Linked DNA regions of Homo sapiens: region 2 is linked to region 1. A link means that fine-mapping ties the variant in region 1 to the expression of a gene that starts in the linked region. Tissue or cell type: whole blood. Region 1 holds a variant in brackets; the other region holds the start of a gene. All regions are shown on one strand. Distances are between the middles of the regions. Region 1 overlaps CTSC (cathepsin C). Region 2 holds the start of CTSC (cathepsin C).

What was found.
Region 2: CTSC starts here. The variant in region 1 is fine-mapped to the expression of CTSC in whole blood (TOPMed, PIP 0.97).

What each region holds. Positions count from the first base shown.
Region 1 is chr11:88,309,505-88,318,463 of GRCh38, forward strand. CTSC (cathepsin C) reads right to left here. Exons shown (of 7, transcript NM_001814.6): 3 at 2,884-3,050. Among named protein-coding and RNA genes, the nearest start is that of CTSC, 24 kb to the right of the region's middle. RefSeq lists a silencer at 3,384-3,584. The variant T/C (reference allele first, on the strand shown) is at 3,604.
Region 2 is chr11:88,333,234-88,342,192 of GRCh38, forward strand. It overlaps CTSC (cathepsin C), which reads right to left and starts at 4,503. Exons shown (of 7, transcript NM_001814.6): 1 at 4,268-4,503; 2 at 1,704-1,849. The coding sequence starts at 4,439. LOC101929174 (a long non-coding RNA gene) reads left to right here and starts at 4,651. Exons shown (of 5, transcript NR_188511.1): 1 at 4,651-4,823. RefSeq lists an enhancer at 4,219-4,498.

The DNA of each region.
Region 1 (8,959 bases):
ACTAAGATGCATGTATAAGGATTTTCCATGAAGTACTTTTAAACTACTAATAGATTGTAAATAACCGAAATAAATATTCTAAGATAAGGGACTGATTAATGATGTTTCATTTTCTATATATTCATTTAAAATGTCTAGAAAGTTATTTAATGATATGGAAGAGTGCTCACAACTATATTATATTAAATATGAGAAGATATCAAAGTTTATACATAATCATAATCAATTTATCAACTTTTGCACAGTAATATATGTATATTATATGTATATTAACGTATATGTATAATACATACATATATATGTATGCGCGCACACACACACACACACACACACACACACACACACTATAAATGCATTTTTAAAATGCCAAACATGGTTACCTCTGAATGGTGGCATGAGATGCCAAGCTTTCCCCTACTCCCTACAGTTTCTACAGTGTACCTTTATAACCTTTTTAATAAGAAAAAAGAGAAAAGCAAAACCTGTATGCAACATATATACAAAATGCAAGCATTATAACCATATGATACTAAAAGAAATTATACTTTATGGACATTCGGTTTATACTTGTTACTCAGAATTTAGTTCTTGAACCAATATCAGTAGCAACACCCAGAAGTTTATTAGAAATGCATACTGTAAGTACTCAGCCCAGATCACCTGAATCAGAATCTCCTTTTTTTTTTTTTTTTTAAACAAGATCCCCAAGTGATTCACAATAACATTAAAATCTGAGCCACATTGGTTTACCTTGTGCCAAATGCTTGGATATATATGTAAATAGATTCAACACACAAAGAGCATATTTACAAAGTAGAAAAATTCAGGAAGCTGATTATTCACTTAATTAAAACATTTATCATACCTGTGTGCTAGATGCTAGGAATTATAGAACTCACCATATTATTACTATTAAAAAAGAGTCTGTGGTTTCAGAGTGACTCACTATCTAAGACTTCCATAAACATTCAACTATGCAAAACAAGATATAATTAACCTGAGGAACATTTTAGGCATACTGCAAACTTTTCTTTCCCTTATAAATCATGTGTGTAGAGAGAGAATTTTGATATGGTCTAAAAACCTAAGAGCACTGAAAATAATCAGAAAAACGTGCAACCAGGTTGATAATGTTTTAATGTTTTTGTCGAAGTTCTTTCCCACTTGTTGCAAAGTGTGAAAAACCCAGAGACGTACCCTTATCAAGCAGATTATAAAACTGTATCATATGTATGACTACACTAACACAATAACAAAAACAAGTTATAGTTGTTTCATTGTTTCTTTAGGCAAAAGAATATATTTTAAATTGTAAATAAAATACTTTTGAGATATTTTCCCACAACGCCAGTCAATATTTCATTGACTGTAGATATTTGAGGAGCAGTAGCCTGCTGTTTCGCTTGCTTTATCATAACATCTAGCAAAACCTCGTGTGTTGACATGTGCATTAAAATAATGACAAGATAGCATCCTACGTCTTAAATACTATTATTTTTGGTGTTTAAGATCCAACGAGATTAAAAATAATGTATCTTACTATGGGATAACAGATCATTAAGAGCTGAAAGAGACCTCAAAGGCAATTCAGTCCCACATGCTCACTTCACAGGTGAGGCAATGTAGGTTCTGAGCACTCCGGTTGGGAGCTTCTTCACTAAATGAGAGAATGTTTGAAATATCAAATAGAGTACAATAGTACATAGCATATCCTAAATGATAGGGTACAAAGTAAACAAGTTAAAAGTAAATGTGTAGCTCTAGGATCAAGCCAAACAAAGCTATTTAAAACCTAAACTTAAAATGAAGGGGATGAATTAGTCTAGATCTTGCCCAGCACCTTTGCAGACAATTCATCCTCCTTTAAATCATCTCTCTTACCTCTGTGCTGCAGTCATTCATTACTAATGTTGCCTGGCTTGGGATGATTTGTACATGTACATTTTTAGTGGCTTTTACAACTACATAAAACAGAAAAAGTAACAACATTTCATCTCTTCCTTCCAAAACTAATAAAGTCTAATTTGAAATCTCCTGTTTGTGTGGTTTAGTCAGTTATAGATTTAATTTAACAGTAAACATTAACTGCAGTTTATAGTCTGAATTGTGTCCCCCTCAAAATTCATACGTTGAAATTCTAACCCCCTGTATCACAGCCATATGACTGTATTTGGAGACAGAGCTTTAAAGAGGTCATTAAGGTAAAATTAGGTCATATGGGTGGGCCCCAATCCAATATGACTGATGCCCTTATAAGAAGAGGACATTAGGACAATCAGAAAAGACTGTTTAGGAGCCCAGTAAGCAAGCAGACATCTGCAAGCCAAGGAGTGTGGCCTTGGAAGAAACCAAACCTGACAACACCTCAATCTTGGACTTCTAGCCTCCAAAACTGTGAAAAAACAACCTTCCTTAAGCCACCCAGTCTGTGGTACTTTGTTATGGCAGCCCTCGCAAACCAACAGGCTGCATAAATACTAAGAACTTTGATTTCAGTTATTTATGGTCTTGTTTAAAAGTTGCCCAATTAGTATCACCTATACTTGTTGCAGCATAAACATACGTATCTACTTGTATCATGCAACATGTTATTACATGGCAATAAGCAAAATGGCTTTTCTTTATTAGTAATTTGCAATTCTGTGGTCCATTACATGATTTCATTTAAAGTAATCATTGGTCCATTACTTTTGGAACACTTTGAAAAAATACTCTCAATAATGTTGGTCAATTTATTTTTCCAGTAAGGTTTTACATAGCATGCCTAATATTTCTAAGCCAAAGATATTTTGTATAATCAAACTAAAATTCCAAAAATGTACACACATATTCATATATACTATAAAACAAAACTAAACGTATGTCTCATTTGTAGCAACTCACTTTTCCTGAGAATTCTTAAGGTGTGCTATGTTGACATACACATTCTCAGAGGCAGTTCCCACCTTCTTTCCGGTGAAACAAGCCCAGTTCCGGCCCAACACATCATGCACCCACCCAGTCATTGTCTCGTTGCAGTAAGTGGTCACCTTGCTGCCCTCTTCTTTATACTGCAAACAAATAAGAGAAAAGAAAACCAAGTAAAATCTGTCTTCAAATTTCAGGTCCATTTCCATGGCTCTCATTCACAGTAAATGTGCCCCTTTCAAAACAAAAACTTCACCCTGAGAGGTTACACTGTAAGAATTATTCTAGAAAAAGAAGACATACAAACTTTTCTGTGGTTAGCACTGTTGGCCACCAAACAAAATGTATATAACAAAACACTTCCAGGAATGAAGGCCAAGGGAAAACAAAACAAAACAAAACAAAAAAGAAAGAAAACAGACCATCTGGCATATTCAAGGCATTTTTCAAAAGTGACTTCACAGTCCTTACAAGAAGACTATGAGGATGCAGATGATAATAACCACATTTTACCAAGGACAAAAGGAGCTCAGCTCAGAGATAAGGAGCTCCTACCAAGGCAACAGGCGAAGTGGCAGAAACAGAATTCTCCTCAGTCTATCACACTACAATTTTCCACTGAGACAAGGGCCACACTAGGAAACTACAAGAACAAATGATGAACTTTTTTTTTCCAGGGATGGAGTCTTGCTGTGT[T/C]GCCCAGGCTGGAGTGCAGTGGTGTGATCTTGGCTCACTGCAACTTGCACCTCCCAGGTTCAAGCGATTCTCTTGCCTCAACCTCCCGAGTAGCTGGGATTAAAGGTGCTTACCACCACGCCTGGCTAATTTTTGTATTGTTTAGTAGAGACGGGGTTTTGCCATGTTGGCCAGGCTGGTCTTGAACTCCAGACAAGTGATCCACCCACCTCGGCCTCCCAAAGTGATGGGATTACAGGTGTGAGCCACAGTGAAACAGAATCCTTTTTTTCTGTCAATCTCTCAATTTATTAGCATATTCTGATCATGAGGGGGCTAAAGTAACCTGAGTATTAAATATATTCTTTACACTTTATTTCAGTAATATGGCCTTTTGTCTTATTTCAGTGTTAGAACTGAAAAATAACTATTATTTTTAACAGATCCAGGATTTGAACTAAGATGCTCTGGCTCCAGAGCCTAGTCACCCTCATGTTAGAACATCTCCTCATGGAGGCGGGGCACATGATCCAGGATGACTGTGTAGCATGTGGGAGACAGAAAGGGAAAATGCTGTGCTAAATTTCTGAGGAGAGACTTGGGCACAGACAATTTCAGGCTCTGACTTAATTTAATAGAAAAGACTATTTGTAGAACCTTGGGCAAGATTTTACGAGGCTTTAGTTCTGTTGCCTGTAAAATATGGAAAGTAGAAAAAAAAATCCTCAAAGGTATAAACATTCTGGGATTCCATGATCAAATGCAGGGTTTGGTAAACACTTCCTATAATGGCCAGACAGCAAAGACCACTAGGCTTTGCAGGCCACTTAGTTCTCTTGCAACTGTTCAACTCTGCCCTTGTAGCACAAAAGCCATCAAAAGCAAGACTCAAACAAATTGGCACAGGGGTCAACTATGTTTCTATAAAATTTCTGTTTACAAAAACAGACAGTAGGGTGGTTTTGGCTCCAGAGGTTGTAGTTTGTGGACTCCTGCTCTACTCTAATACACATTATTTCACTTGTTTGCAGAGGTTGGCAAACTTCTTTTTGAAGGACTAGATAGTAAATATTTTAGGCTTGAAGGCTGGAAGACCTCAGTCACAACTACTCAACCTAAAAGGTGCAAAGGGAATACATAAATGAATGAGCTAGGCTGTGTTCCAATAAAACTTTACTTACAAAAAGAGGTTTGTAGTTTGCCAACCCCCAGTTTAGAGAAATGTGTGGGCTAAACTACACTTAAAGTTAAAATTACCTTATTGCATCTGACTCTCTGAATTCAAATCATATTTAGGGGGAGAGTTAAAAATGTATGGCTTTAGAATCCAGAAAAACTGGACTTGAATTGTGGGAATCACCACTCACTGTGTTATATAGCACAGGAAAAGTTACTCTGGGCTACTCATATCCGCATCTTGCTTTTATCTTTGGTGATATTCATGATATTCTCTTTTTTTCAGACAGAGTCTCACTCTGTTGCCCAGGCTGGAGTACACTGGCGAGATGTCGGCTCACTGCAACCTCCGCCTCCCAGGTTCAAGCGATTCTCCTGCCTCAGCCTCCCAAGTAGCTGCGACTACAGGCATGTGCTACCAGGCCTGGCTAATTTTTGTATTTTTAGTAGAGATAGGGTTTCACCATGTTGGCCAGGCTGGTCTCAAACTCCTGACCTGAGGTGATCTGCTTCCTTCAGCCTCCCAAAGTGCTGGGATTACAGGTGTGAGCCACTGTACCCAGCTGGTTGTTCATGATATTCTGGATCCCATATGTCTGCTTCTAGTGAAGAATGGCTTCACTAGCATGAGTTCAGTTCCCAACTACTCAAGTCCCTGCTAAAACCCTACTCAATATGATGACCATGGAAACAAAGACCCAGGACATTGTTGGGCAGCAATATGAGAGGGTGTGTTGTGTGAAAAGGTTAATAAAATTAACTTCATACTAAACTATGTAAAACTTCTACTTTGGTAGATCGAAACAGTGTAACATGGTAACTTTATAGGATGCAACCTAAACTCCATAAAGTTGTATTATGTACTTCTCTCTGGCACTGGCTCTTGATCCTATTCTCTTCTCCTTGGTTGCATGCTGGTAAGGCAGGCCAGGTAGGGTTAGGCCGATGCTCCCTCCCACCTCTGCTGTTTGAGGAAGCAGTCTGACAATGTTTCCAGAGTTCTTAAGAGCTACTTTATAGATATTGACACACATACACAAACAAAATGCTACACACAGGAAGACATTCACTGCAGTATAACACAAGTTAAAAATAAAAACAATAGAATGTCCTAGAAAATGCCCAAATTTAAAAAGTATTAGGTAAACAATTTATTCAAAGGAATAATGTGTAACATTGTATATGATAAACCTGAGTTCTATAGGAAAGGGGTGAGCAAACTAAAATTGGAGAAGACTGCCTATTTCTATAAATATAGTTTTACTGGAGAACAGCATGCCCATTCATTTATACATTGTCTATGGCTACTTTTGTGCCACAATGGCAGAGATTTCATACTTTATAAATATTGTACAGATTACTCATAAATCTTACAGGTTCAAGAGAACACAGAAATGATATAGTCTTGGGGGACAAAAAAAAGACCTAAGGAAGTGGTGGAACTAGAACTAAGCATCCTACCCAATGCCATCCTCCACTTCTTCCTACAATTTGTCTTCTCACGAAGAGCCAGAGAGGTAAACAATTACTAAAATCACTGACGGGAGATACCCAGAAATGACAGAAAAGGCTTTTTTTTAAACCCAAAGGGCTTCCACCTATATTATTTGAGCCTCACGATAATCTCTTTGGGATAAAATTTCTTTCTAATGAAGAAAAGGTGACTCTGCAAAATTAAATGGAGAGGAAAGGATTCAAATACAGGTTTACATGTTACAAAGGTCATTGCTTTATCCATTGTATTCTCTAAAAAAAAAAAGGTGCAGAGAATTAACTGACTCATGAGTCACGTTCAAATTGTTGCCCAAGGCCTTTAAAGGGCTGCCTAAAATTTCTAGCAGTCCTCATAGGTGTTCTCCCATTCTTCAGGTACCTATGTTGCCTTGGCTCTTTCAGTCTTTTTACCATGCCTGCCTAGGGTTTTTGACGCAGAACAGAAAGAAAGAATAATGCCTTCAGGCCTAGACTGCCTAGACTGCTCTGCCACTGATTGGCTGTGTGATCCTGAGCAAGTCACGTTCCTCTCTGTACTTTCAGTTTCCTCATCTTTAAAACAGGAGCAATGGCCAGGTACAGTGGCTCATGCCTTTAATCCCAGCACTTTGGAACGCCGAGGTTGGGGGAATCACTTGAGGCCAGGTGTTTTGAGGTTACAGTGAGCAATGATCCAGCCACTGAACTCCGGCCTGGATGACAGAATCAGATCCATTCTCTAAATAAATAAATAAATAAATAAATAAATGAAGCAGGGATGATAATTACAGACTATATCTCATGGGCTGTGTTTTATGTATACTAACTCATTTATTTTTCACGATAGTCTATCAGGTTGTTCTTTCCACAAAAACATAACTATGACAATAGGATTTTTGTTTATTCAGTACCTAGAAAACTATCTGGCACTAGGAAGTAATTAACTACTAAATGAGTGAATAAATGAATAACAGAAGAGGAAGAACAACAAATGTCAAGTCCTATTTCAACAGTTAACAAGGCACTGAGAATAGGTAAGTTTATAATTAACAGAGGTGTGGTGATGCCAATATATCACAATGTCTGACAGTCCAAATCACAGTATTACTTCAGAAGTGCAAATGTTCCTCTCCAAAGCTGCTTCCCTATTTGTAATTTTAGGTTGACCTAGAAGTTCCAAAAATTTCCCTTCAAGCTTTCTAATTGCAAATCCTTATATCTGTGGTTGTCTTAATTTTTTTTTTTTTTCAAGATGGAGTCTTGTTCTGTCACCCAGGCTGGAGTGCAGTGGCGCGATCTCAGCTCACTGCAACCTCCGTCTTCCGGGTTCAAGCAATTCTCCTGCCTCAGCCGCCTGAGTAGCTGGGATTACAGGCATGCGTCACCACGCCCGGCTAATTTTTGTATTTTTAGTAGAGACAGGGTTTCGCCATGTTGGCCAGGCTGGTCTTGAACTCCTGACCTCAGGTGATCCGTCTGCCTCGGCCTCCCAAAGTGCTGGGATTACAGGCATGATCCACCACGGCCAGCCTTCTTATTTAATATTCATAAAGCCAGTAATTCTTAATAGACACACTATTTATATGAGTAATCCTAAAAAACTACAACTTTGTTTTTGTTGTTATAACTTAAACCCTACACATTCCATTAAATTGATGGAATTATTTTCCCTTTTAAAATTTTATTTTATACTATTCTTACAATCTGAAATAATGTATCAATTTTAGAACCTGAAATTATTCTGTAAAAGTACAGAGCTGCAATGCCACTCTGCACGACAACAACTTAGTAAAAGAGAGGCATTTACCAGCGGGGAAGCCAAGTACGCAGTACCTTAAGGGGGACCATCCACTGTACCCCTGTGATTTTCTTGATTTGAATGTTTTCGGGGTATGTCATTTTTTCCTGTGAAATACTTCTTTTGTGATTTCTGACGTTGTATCACCAATTAAGAAGTTGAAGTTTTGACCCCGCTATCCAGCTTGAAATGCAGCCAAAAAATTTTTCTGAGTTTTCACTTATATAAACATCAGTCTCTGAAGACTGCCTTGCACAGATGAGATAATTTAAGTTTCCATTCATTTATGCTAATTTCTACTGCAACAAATAGATAATTTCCTAAAATATGAAGATCAAGCCCTAGTATTTAAGTTTAAAAAACTATTATGATTCAATAACTATCCATTTGCTTCTTCAATATTACCATTAAGTTGCCACACATTCTCAAAATATCCCTTCTTCAATTTCCCACTCATTTTATCAGCTATCCAATTAGATATACCTAGTCATAGGGAAATTTTGGAATTGAAGTTATTTTTGGGAACTGAAGTTATTTATCTTGGATCTTTTACTTGACTGCTTTTTGACACTGAGGAGAGGGAAAAAAAAATTCCTTAAACCTGTTCTACTGTTTTCTTGATTAATAATATACTTAGCCAATGTCTGAATACTTACTTTACATAACAAACTTGGCTAGAAGACAGAGGCAGTTTAGTAAAGTGGACTCCGCCCTTTAAATCCAGTCTGTCACTTATCATTTACGTAACCTTGAGCAAGTCAAAACTAGTGAGCCTCAGTTACTTTATCTGAAAGTAGGAATGATATCTATAATTGATACTACTTTACTGGACTGCTATGAAAGATATAGATGAAATTGAAGTTGGAAGAGTTAAAAAGTTATACAACATTAAACAAGTGACTATACTAACATTACCATCATTACCATGAA
Region 2 (8,959 bases), 24 kb after region 1:
GAATTTAAGAATCAAAAGTTTTCTAAGTCAAAAGAATAAACTATGTACTTGTCTCTTTTTACCTATTCCTCATCTCCTAAATAATTTATTTAACCTATTTCCCAACTGAATTCCACTTCATTCATTCATTTTTTTTGTAATAAATTGACTAGGTGTCTATTGTGTGTCAAAGAAGAAGGGATAGAGACAGAGGAAAAGAAAATGACAAAAAATTATGTACAAGGTTTATGGTACATGGTAACAATTGCCTTGAATATCTCTTCCTTTGCACATGCATTCCACATGCAATTGATTCTTAATCTGAAGTCAAAGAACCTTTGAAGGGCTGTGACAGAGTAACTGTAAGAGGTCTGCAAAGGCCTAGGCTCATCAACGTATACACCAAAGATTATTTTCAGGTTAAATATACCACATATACATTACAATTTTAAAAATTTATATAGATACTATTGTAAGTATGTTTTTTACAAAAAAAATGCGTAGCATCTGGAAATGATACTAAAAATAGTTAACAACTGGTTAAGCATGGGTTTCCACTAATTCAGTGGACTGGTGGCCATCAACAGCTAGCATGGACAAACTGGTTTCCACCAGCTGCATATCACACCAGCAAATCCAGTTGAGGAAAGGCAACCTCTTCCTCTCTATTTCATCTTTTTTTTTTCCATATTAAAGAAAGGTCCTTATTTTAAAAATATTTCTGGGAGTTATTATTCTAAAAAATATTGTAAACTTGCTTGGACCGCCATAACCTTGTGACAAACCACAACTCCCATGAGAAATTATAACAAGTTTAGAACTAGGCCTTTGTTGGTGCTTTGTCTTTTATCATATTTAACAGAGTTATTCCCTACTTTCCCACTTCTTCCCAGATGTTTTAAAGGCTGTAAACCTTTCACCATGAAAAAGTCTGTCTTAATTTATACTCTATGTATAATGAGAAACGCCTAGTTTCAGGCTTATGTATCCAATTTACTTGAACCATTTAATATTTAGCTTACAAGAAAAGTTCCAGCTTGTGAAGAACAAATGAAATGGGCTGCAATTTGTGCTAAACTATTTTAACCCTGAGTATGTTTGCAATTGGAAAAAGTGTGTTATGAGAATGAACAATAGTTCTTTCCTAATGAGAGAAGGAAACAAGCTGGGTTGACTTGGCTACCTTTCACTTTAACCAGCCTAAGGGAGTAACTCCTAGGTTCTCTCTTTCTGTTAGTTTAGAAGAAAAAATTACTCAACATATTTAGTACATTTAAGATAATGAATCATTTAGGCCTATCACTACCTCAGCCAACAGGTAGTGATAGGAAGGACAGCATAGTAACTGCAAGAAAACAAAATGTGTAATCTCTCTATCTTTCCTACAGATTTAGAACAAAGCCAAATGACTATGGCAACATTTAGAAATAAAGTGGTAGTAATAAGGAAAATAAATTAAGAATTTAGTCATACTTACCAAAATGTAAATTTTAAACATAATTTATACATATTCAAATGTAGCACTGGTATTTTGTAAACCTACTAAAATCATAATTTTAAATAAAGTGGCAAAATTATACCAACTACTACTACTCTTGGGAAGAGTGGTGTCAATTCCGGTCATCTTCTTAATCTAAAATTAAAATTCTGAGGGTCTACTAATCAGAAGAGGTTTCAGATATCAAATCATTGAAAATGTAAATCCAACTTCCAACAAAACTAACCTTAAAAAAGGCAAACCACTTGTAGTCATTCAACACAATCTCAAAGCCTTGGTTGTAAATGATGGTGAAATGGCCAGAATTGCCAAGGTCATCATATGCTGTATCCAGCTTCTGAAGGTACACCACTACTTTTTTTTCTTGTGGTCCTAAAGAAAAAAAAAAAAAGCACAATAAAGGAAAATTATTTGGATTTCAATAGGGGAAAGAATCCCCCAATTTCAATTTTAATTGTGCTGCTTTCCTTTCATGCTACCCAGTTTGAGCACAGTCTGCCTAGTGAAGAAACCAGAGGCTCCATCTTGTTGCCTCAAACAGTTCCTGCTCCGAGGCAAGACTGTGAAGTTAGGCTCTAAAAATTTGAGATAATGCAAGCAGAAGCAGTGGCTCACGCCTGTAATCCTAGCACTTTGCGGGGCTGAGGTCAGAACTTCAAGACTAGTTTGGGCAACATAGTGAGACCCTGTCTCTACAAAAATAATTTTTAAAAATTCGCTGGTTATGGTGGTGCATTGCCTGTAGTCCCAGCTATTTGAGCGGCTGAAGCTGAGGTGGAAGGATTGCTTGAGCCCAGGAGTTGGAGGCTGCAGTGAGCTATGATTGCACAACTGCATTCCAACCTGGGCAACACAGTGAGACCTTGTCTCAAAAAAGAGAGATATGCTATGCAGCCCAGCAGGCAGGGAGACCCCCAAAACTACAGTACCTTTCCAGAGCATCCCAACACTGAAGAAATTTTTCCACTGAACAAAAGGAGAAATGGGGAATGTTGAAAATTACAGGCTTCCAGAAACGGAGAAAAGGCAAAATGCTAGTCAAAAGTGGGAAATGCAAGAATAAAAGGTATGACAACAAAAAGATAAATAAACAGACTATCAGATCCTAAGGAAGACAATGTGCTAAGCCCAGGAGAAGACACAAAATGATCTATTCGGAGAAGAAATGGGGTACCTTTCTCCTCAAAGGCTCTACAGTTTAGAACCTCATAATCTGAATCCTTCCAAAGTTTATTCAGCAAACTAGAGGTCTGTATCCTATAAAACCAATTAGTGCTGATAGGAATGATACGTTTAACCTTCATAGATGAGGGCTCAGACCTGTGGGTGCCTTTAATTACTGAATTAAGGCCAAAGGTAATTTTATAGGCAGAGCCTTCCTGAAAATGATTCAGCTGTGTCCATCTGGAGAGTTGTGTATTTTAAAGTTTTTCCATGTTTGAGAGTAATGCTCTGACATGGGAGATTGCATGTGACAGGGCAGTGCAAATCCTGATCTCTTTCTGCCCCAACCTTCAAACTCAAATTTAAAAAAAAAAAAAAAAAAAAGGCCAGGCGTGGTGACTCCCGCCTGTAATCCCAGTACTTTGGGAGGCCGAGGCGGGCGGATCACGAGGTCAGGAGATGGAGACCATCCTGGCTAACACAGTGAAACCCGTCTCTACTAAAAATACAAAATATTAGCCGGGCGTGGTGGCATGTGCCCGTAATCCTAGCTACTCGGGAGACTGAGGCAGGAGAATCGCTTAAACCCGGGAGGCGGAGGTTGCAGTGAGCCGAGATCCCGCCACTGAACTACAGCCTGGGTGACAGAGCAAGACTCCATTCTCAAAAAAAAAAAAAAAAAAGTTACAATGTTCAGGATTATGAAATGCTATACAGTCAGTTAAAAAGGTATTTCTTTAGTAACAAATGACTTAATCTTTGTTCTGTTGACAAGAAAATTATAGCTGATTTTTTACTGACTCTGCAGAAGTCACAGGCTGTAAGAGGGTTTGGGTAGACCACAGTGTGACTCTTCTAACTAGTGATTGTCTTTTTTCCACCCCACCCCCTTCACTAGGTTCTTTGTTCTAGGGGTAACCATGTTATCTGAAGGCATATGGAATATCTCCAGTATGTTCAAACACTAGGTATTTATTGAGAGCCTTCCATGAGCCAAACATTGTGCAGACTCTGGGCATTTCTAATTACTAGGTTCAGAGTTAAGTTTTCTTTGTTATTAATTTTTTAAAAAATTTTTACCTCCTTGCAATGCATGAAACAATGCAGAGTGGTACTAGCCGTTTTCTAGTACTCATCAACACCCGCTCAAACCAAAATCGCTGGGCAGAAAGTCCCTTTCCCACCATCTAACAAAAAGAGAAAACTTCATGCTATATCCTCGAGAGTCTCTGAGCTCATCTATCTTCACTAGTAAAATAGTAATAAAAAATAAAAATAAATTTTAAAAATAACGCTACCAGATCGGACTGGAGAACCAAACGATTGCAGTTCCCAAGTCTCTCTCAAAGCAAACAAAATTAAGCGGGAGGAATAAAAAAGTTCTTGATCAAAGTGTTGAGTCCCCAAGATAACCAAGAAAGTGTGGAGTTAGAAGTTCTCAGCAGATGAACTTTAACTTCGCGAGCCTGGCGGGGAAGAAGGTCCCCAAGGGTCCCCGAATCCAGTCAAGATGCTCTGGCCACCCACAAGCGTCTGCCTGGGGGGAAGCGGTAGTTGGCGTGGCGCTGCGTTAGGGGCTCAAGGGCAGAAAGGACGACCCGGAGGACTGCCGAGCCGGCGGCTTACCCATAACCGAGCAGTTGACATCGCGCTGGGAACCGCTGGAGCCCACCTGGAAGACCCAGGTGCCCAGCAGGTCAAGATAGGTGCAGTTGGCAGGTGTGTCGCAGCGCACGGCGCCGTCGCCGGAGAGAAGCAGCAGGAGGGCGGCGAGCAGCAAGGAGGGCCCAGCACCCATGCTGCAGGGAGCTGAGAAAAGAGGTGAAGAATTACCAGGAAGCCGAGCGCTGCGGGCTAGCGGTGAGTCCACCACGAGGCGCGCGCCTTGAAATAGCTACGCCGGCCCGGAAACCCGTGGGCGGGGTCACTGAGCAGCAGGGGATTGGGGGTTGGGCGCCAGGCGCGTGCGCGTCTCTGAAACGGGGACTTGGGAGCGCGCGCTGCCCCTCACTTGGCTGCAACTGGACCCAGAACTAGGGAAGAGGCCAGGGACAGATTTTTTTTTTTTATTTTTATTTTTTTTGCCGAGGGACGTTTCAAAATTTTGCACGGCCAGGGTGACAAAAAGAGGATTTAAGAGCCACAAGCGGTCCGCACATGACCCAGACTTCGTTCCTGTGCGGTAACGTAGGGAGAGAAGGAAAGGGTGTGGGGGGAATAAGGGAGTGGGTCAGGTGAAAGAGCGCGACAGAGGGAGAGATCTAGCAAGTGGAGTTCTGTTTTACTTGCTATTCTTCCCCTTTAGTCTTTTTTCTCAGGTCCACTTGCCTCATAACCAACTTCTTGTTTTTTCCTCTGAAAAACTTCGCTAGCTAACATCAACTATTCCAGCTGTTTGAGAACTTATCTTCCTTCCGTTTTCCAACTCTTCCTACTTTTTTATGTGCTTGATTTTGTTTTGTTTCCTGGTAAATGCTGTTTGCCTGTTTGCATTCAGCAGAATTCAGTTTTTGTGCAAACCTGCAGTTTTGATGTATTAGCGTTGTGGGGGTTTTCCCTCTGGCACGCACACACATGGCGCTCTCAGAGATGATATTGCTCAACCCCTTTTATGTTACAGAGGAAAAGCAAGAGGCCCAGAGAGAGGAAGCGGCTTGCCCAGGGTGAGAAGGGTGAGGAAGGAAGCTAGCCAATGGGAGAAGGCTGGTCTTATGAACCGTTCTAGTGTGTCAGTCTGATCGCCAAAAATTATTAGGTGGCACTATTTCCAGGTGCCTCCTTGCTCAGTTTAAGTATCACCCTTTTCCGTAAGAGCCTCCCGTTCTTTCCTGGCTTTTGTTGGTAATTGGGGCTCCTTTCTCCCACTGAGCCTACTAGGTGTCAGGCCCTGTGGACACAGTGATGAACAAGACAGACCTGATGTGTCCCCGTTTTCTTTGGGATATGAATTTTTGCCCCCTTTGCACTGGTCACAAATCAATATTCATATGTCCATTTTTTTTCCACCAGATTATAAACATTCAAAGAGAGCAGGTCCAAATTATTCACTTATATCTCCCTAGATTCTGGTTTATTCAGAAAGTGTCCTTGAGTGTTAAAATAAGTGTACTTAATATTCTTATCTTGGTTGCCAAGCTTGAAAGCCAGTTTCAATGAGGCAAAAGGAGTTGTCCTTGAAAGTTCAGAGGTGAAAATACTCTTCAATGGGGGCACAAATTTCCAAAGCCTGGGGCGGGGTTGGTGGCGGGGGGTTGGGGAACACCTTGCTTTTAGGTTTTATATACCTTCTTAGAATTGAAAGCTGACATTGTATAATTAAGCTAACACACTATTTATTTAAAGATACCCTGACAGATTAAGCTTCCCTTCCTGAATCTCTAGGAAGGTGTGTTACTGATTGTTAAAACATTAAATTTGTATTAGGTCATCAATATTGAAGAGCCAGTTTAGGTGGAAATTTCTTTGATGAATGTAATCAAAGCAACACACTTAATTGTAAAGAAAGTTTAAAACAGTCTTTATTCAATGATTGAATAATAGAAAAAGATCTTGTGGACCTCTTAGTCTAATGGATTCATTTTAAAATTGGGAAATGGAGATTCAGAGAGTTAAATCACTTGCTGAATGTCATATTGCCACTTAGTAAGATTTAAGAATGAACCTCAGGCACATTGATTTTCAGTTTAGTTTATTTCTACTAATCTAATAATTCCCATACTGTTCTCTCTCAAAAATAACTACTAACTCTCCATTCCACGCACACACAAAAAATTGATTCTCAAACTGATCAGACCCCAAATCCTTTACTTTCTGAAATGAAATTAATATATAAACTGCTTACACACTTAATAAAAAGAAATGTAATGCCAAATGTAATATAAAGAAGAAATCAGATATTTTAAATATATTTCTAGTATAATAAGTTATATCCCATCATGTAAAATGTTCAAGTATGACTGTGTTGGAAAACATAATGAGGCACTCAGATACTTGCTCTTCACACTTCTGTAACCACCCAATGGATTCACCTGGCCTGCTGCCTAGACAGAGCCAATTTATCAAGACAGGGGAATTGCAATGGAGGAAGAGTAATTCATACAGAGCCGGCTGTGGGGGAGACGGGAGTTTTATTATCACTCAAATCAGTCTCCCCGAGCATTCAGGGATCAGAGTTTTCAAAGATAATTTGGTGGGTAGGGGCTTGGGAAGTGGGGAGTGCTGATTGGTTAGGTTGGAGATGGAATCATAGGGGGTCTAAGTGAGTTTTTCTTGCTATCTTCTGTTCCTGGGTGGGATGGCAGATATGGTTGAGCCAGATTGCTGGTCTCAGTGGTGTCAGCTGATCTATGGAGTGCAGGGTCTGTAAAATATCTCAAGCACTGATCTTAGATTTTACAATAGAGATGTTATCCCCAGAAGCAACTTGGAGGGTGGGAGGGTGCAGACTCTTGGAGCCAGAGGCCACATGACCCCTAAACTGTAATTTCTAATCTTGTAGCTAATTTGTTAGTCCTGCGAAGGCAGACTGGTCCCCAGGCAAGAAGGGAGTCTTTTTGGGAAAGGGCTATTATCAATTTTGTTTCAGAGTCAAACCATGAACTGAATTACTTCCCAAAGTTTGTTCCACCTATGCCCAGGAATGAAAAAGGACAGCTTAAAGATTAGAAGCAAGATGGAGTCGATTAGGTCTGATTTCTTTCACAGTTGTAATTTTTGCAAAGGTGGTTTCACTTCTATGTAAAATTGTAGAATCGTGGTAAATGTGATAGGAACTTTTTTCTGAGAGCACAAATGATTTCTGATGAGTTATAACTCAAATACCTTATCAATTAATCACTCAAACACCATACCAAAGTTGTTGATGTTGGACAATTCTTGGTCAAATTCCCAGGAGAACAAAGTAGAATTTTCTGTTGAAGGTTTATCAAGAGGTTGCATTCCCAAAAATTCAGTATATGTTAAAATTATATAAAACAAAAGTGAGCTTATGTGCAAAACATGGTCTGTCAGTAGGCTCCCATCATTAAAAGCAGGTTTACAGAGAGGCAGCATTACTTGGCAGTGGTTCTCAAAGTGTAGCCTAGGACCAGGGACATCAGCATCTGTCTTAGTCTGTTTTCTGTTGCTAGAACTGTACCTGAGACTCGGTAATTTAAAACAAAGAAAATTATTTTTTATAGTTCTAGAGACAGGTAAGTCCAAGGTCAAGAGGCCCCATCGAAGGGGGCCCTTCTTGCTGGTTGAGACTCTTTGCAGAATCCCAAGGTAGTACAGGGTATCACGTGGCAAAGGGGGTCATGAGAGATGGCCAAACTAGTGCTTATTACAGACCCACCCTCATGATAACTAATCCTTGATAATTCCATAATCCATTAATCTATTAACCCATGATAGATTCATCCATTCATGAGGGCACTGCCAATCACTTCTCAAAGGTCCCACCTCTCGACACATGACTTTTGGGGGACAACCTATGTTCAAACCACAGCATTCTGTCCCTGACCCCCAGAATTCATGGCCTTCTCACAATTCAAAATACAGTCATTCCATCCTAGTAGTCCCAAAAGACTGAATTTGTTCCAGCACCAACTCAAAAGTCTAAAGTGTCATCTGGGAGTTTGTGAAATCAAAACAAGTTATCTACTTCCTAGATACAATGGTGGGACAGGTATAAGGTATACACTCCCTTTCCAAAAGAGACAAACAGGCCAGAAGAAAGAAGTAACAGGCCCAAGCAAGTCAAAAACTCAGCAGAGAAGACTTAAATTTTAAGGCTGGAGAATAATCTTTCTTGATTCCATGTACAGCATCTTGTGCACATTGGGGGATGGGGTATTTCAGGAGGCCTCAAGGCACCCTGGTGCCCTCAGCTTTCCCAGGCAGGTATTGCATGCTGCTGGTGGCTCTACTGTTCTGGGGTCCTGGTGGCAGTCTGGCTCTTACAGCTGCATTAGGCATTGCCCTTAGGGGGGCTCTATGCAACAACCCCAGTTCCACTGTTCCACTTCGTATTGCCCTAGTGGAAGCTCTCTGCAGTAGCTCTACCCTCAGACAGTCCAACACATTCTTCAAAATCTAGGTGGAGGCTGCCAGGCCTCCACAGCTCTTGCATTCTATGCACCTGCAGAATTAGTACCACATGGATACTGCCATGGTTTACCACTTGTACATCCTAGAGCTGCAGGTTAATCTGCACCTGTGGCTGCTTGAACCACAGCTGGGGGCGCTGAGGAGCAGTGTGCTGGAACGCAGGGAGTAGAGACCCAAAGCAGCCCTGGGCAGCAGTCCATCCCCGGAATTATTCTGCCCTCTTAGAGC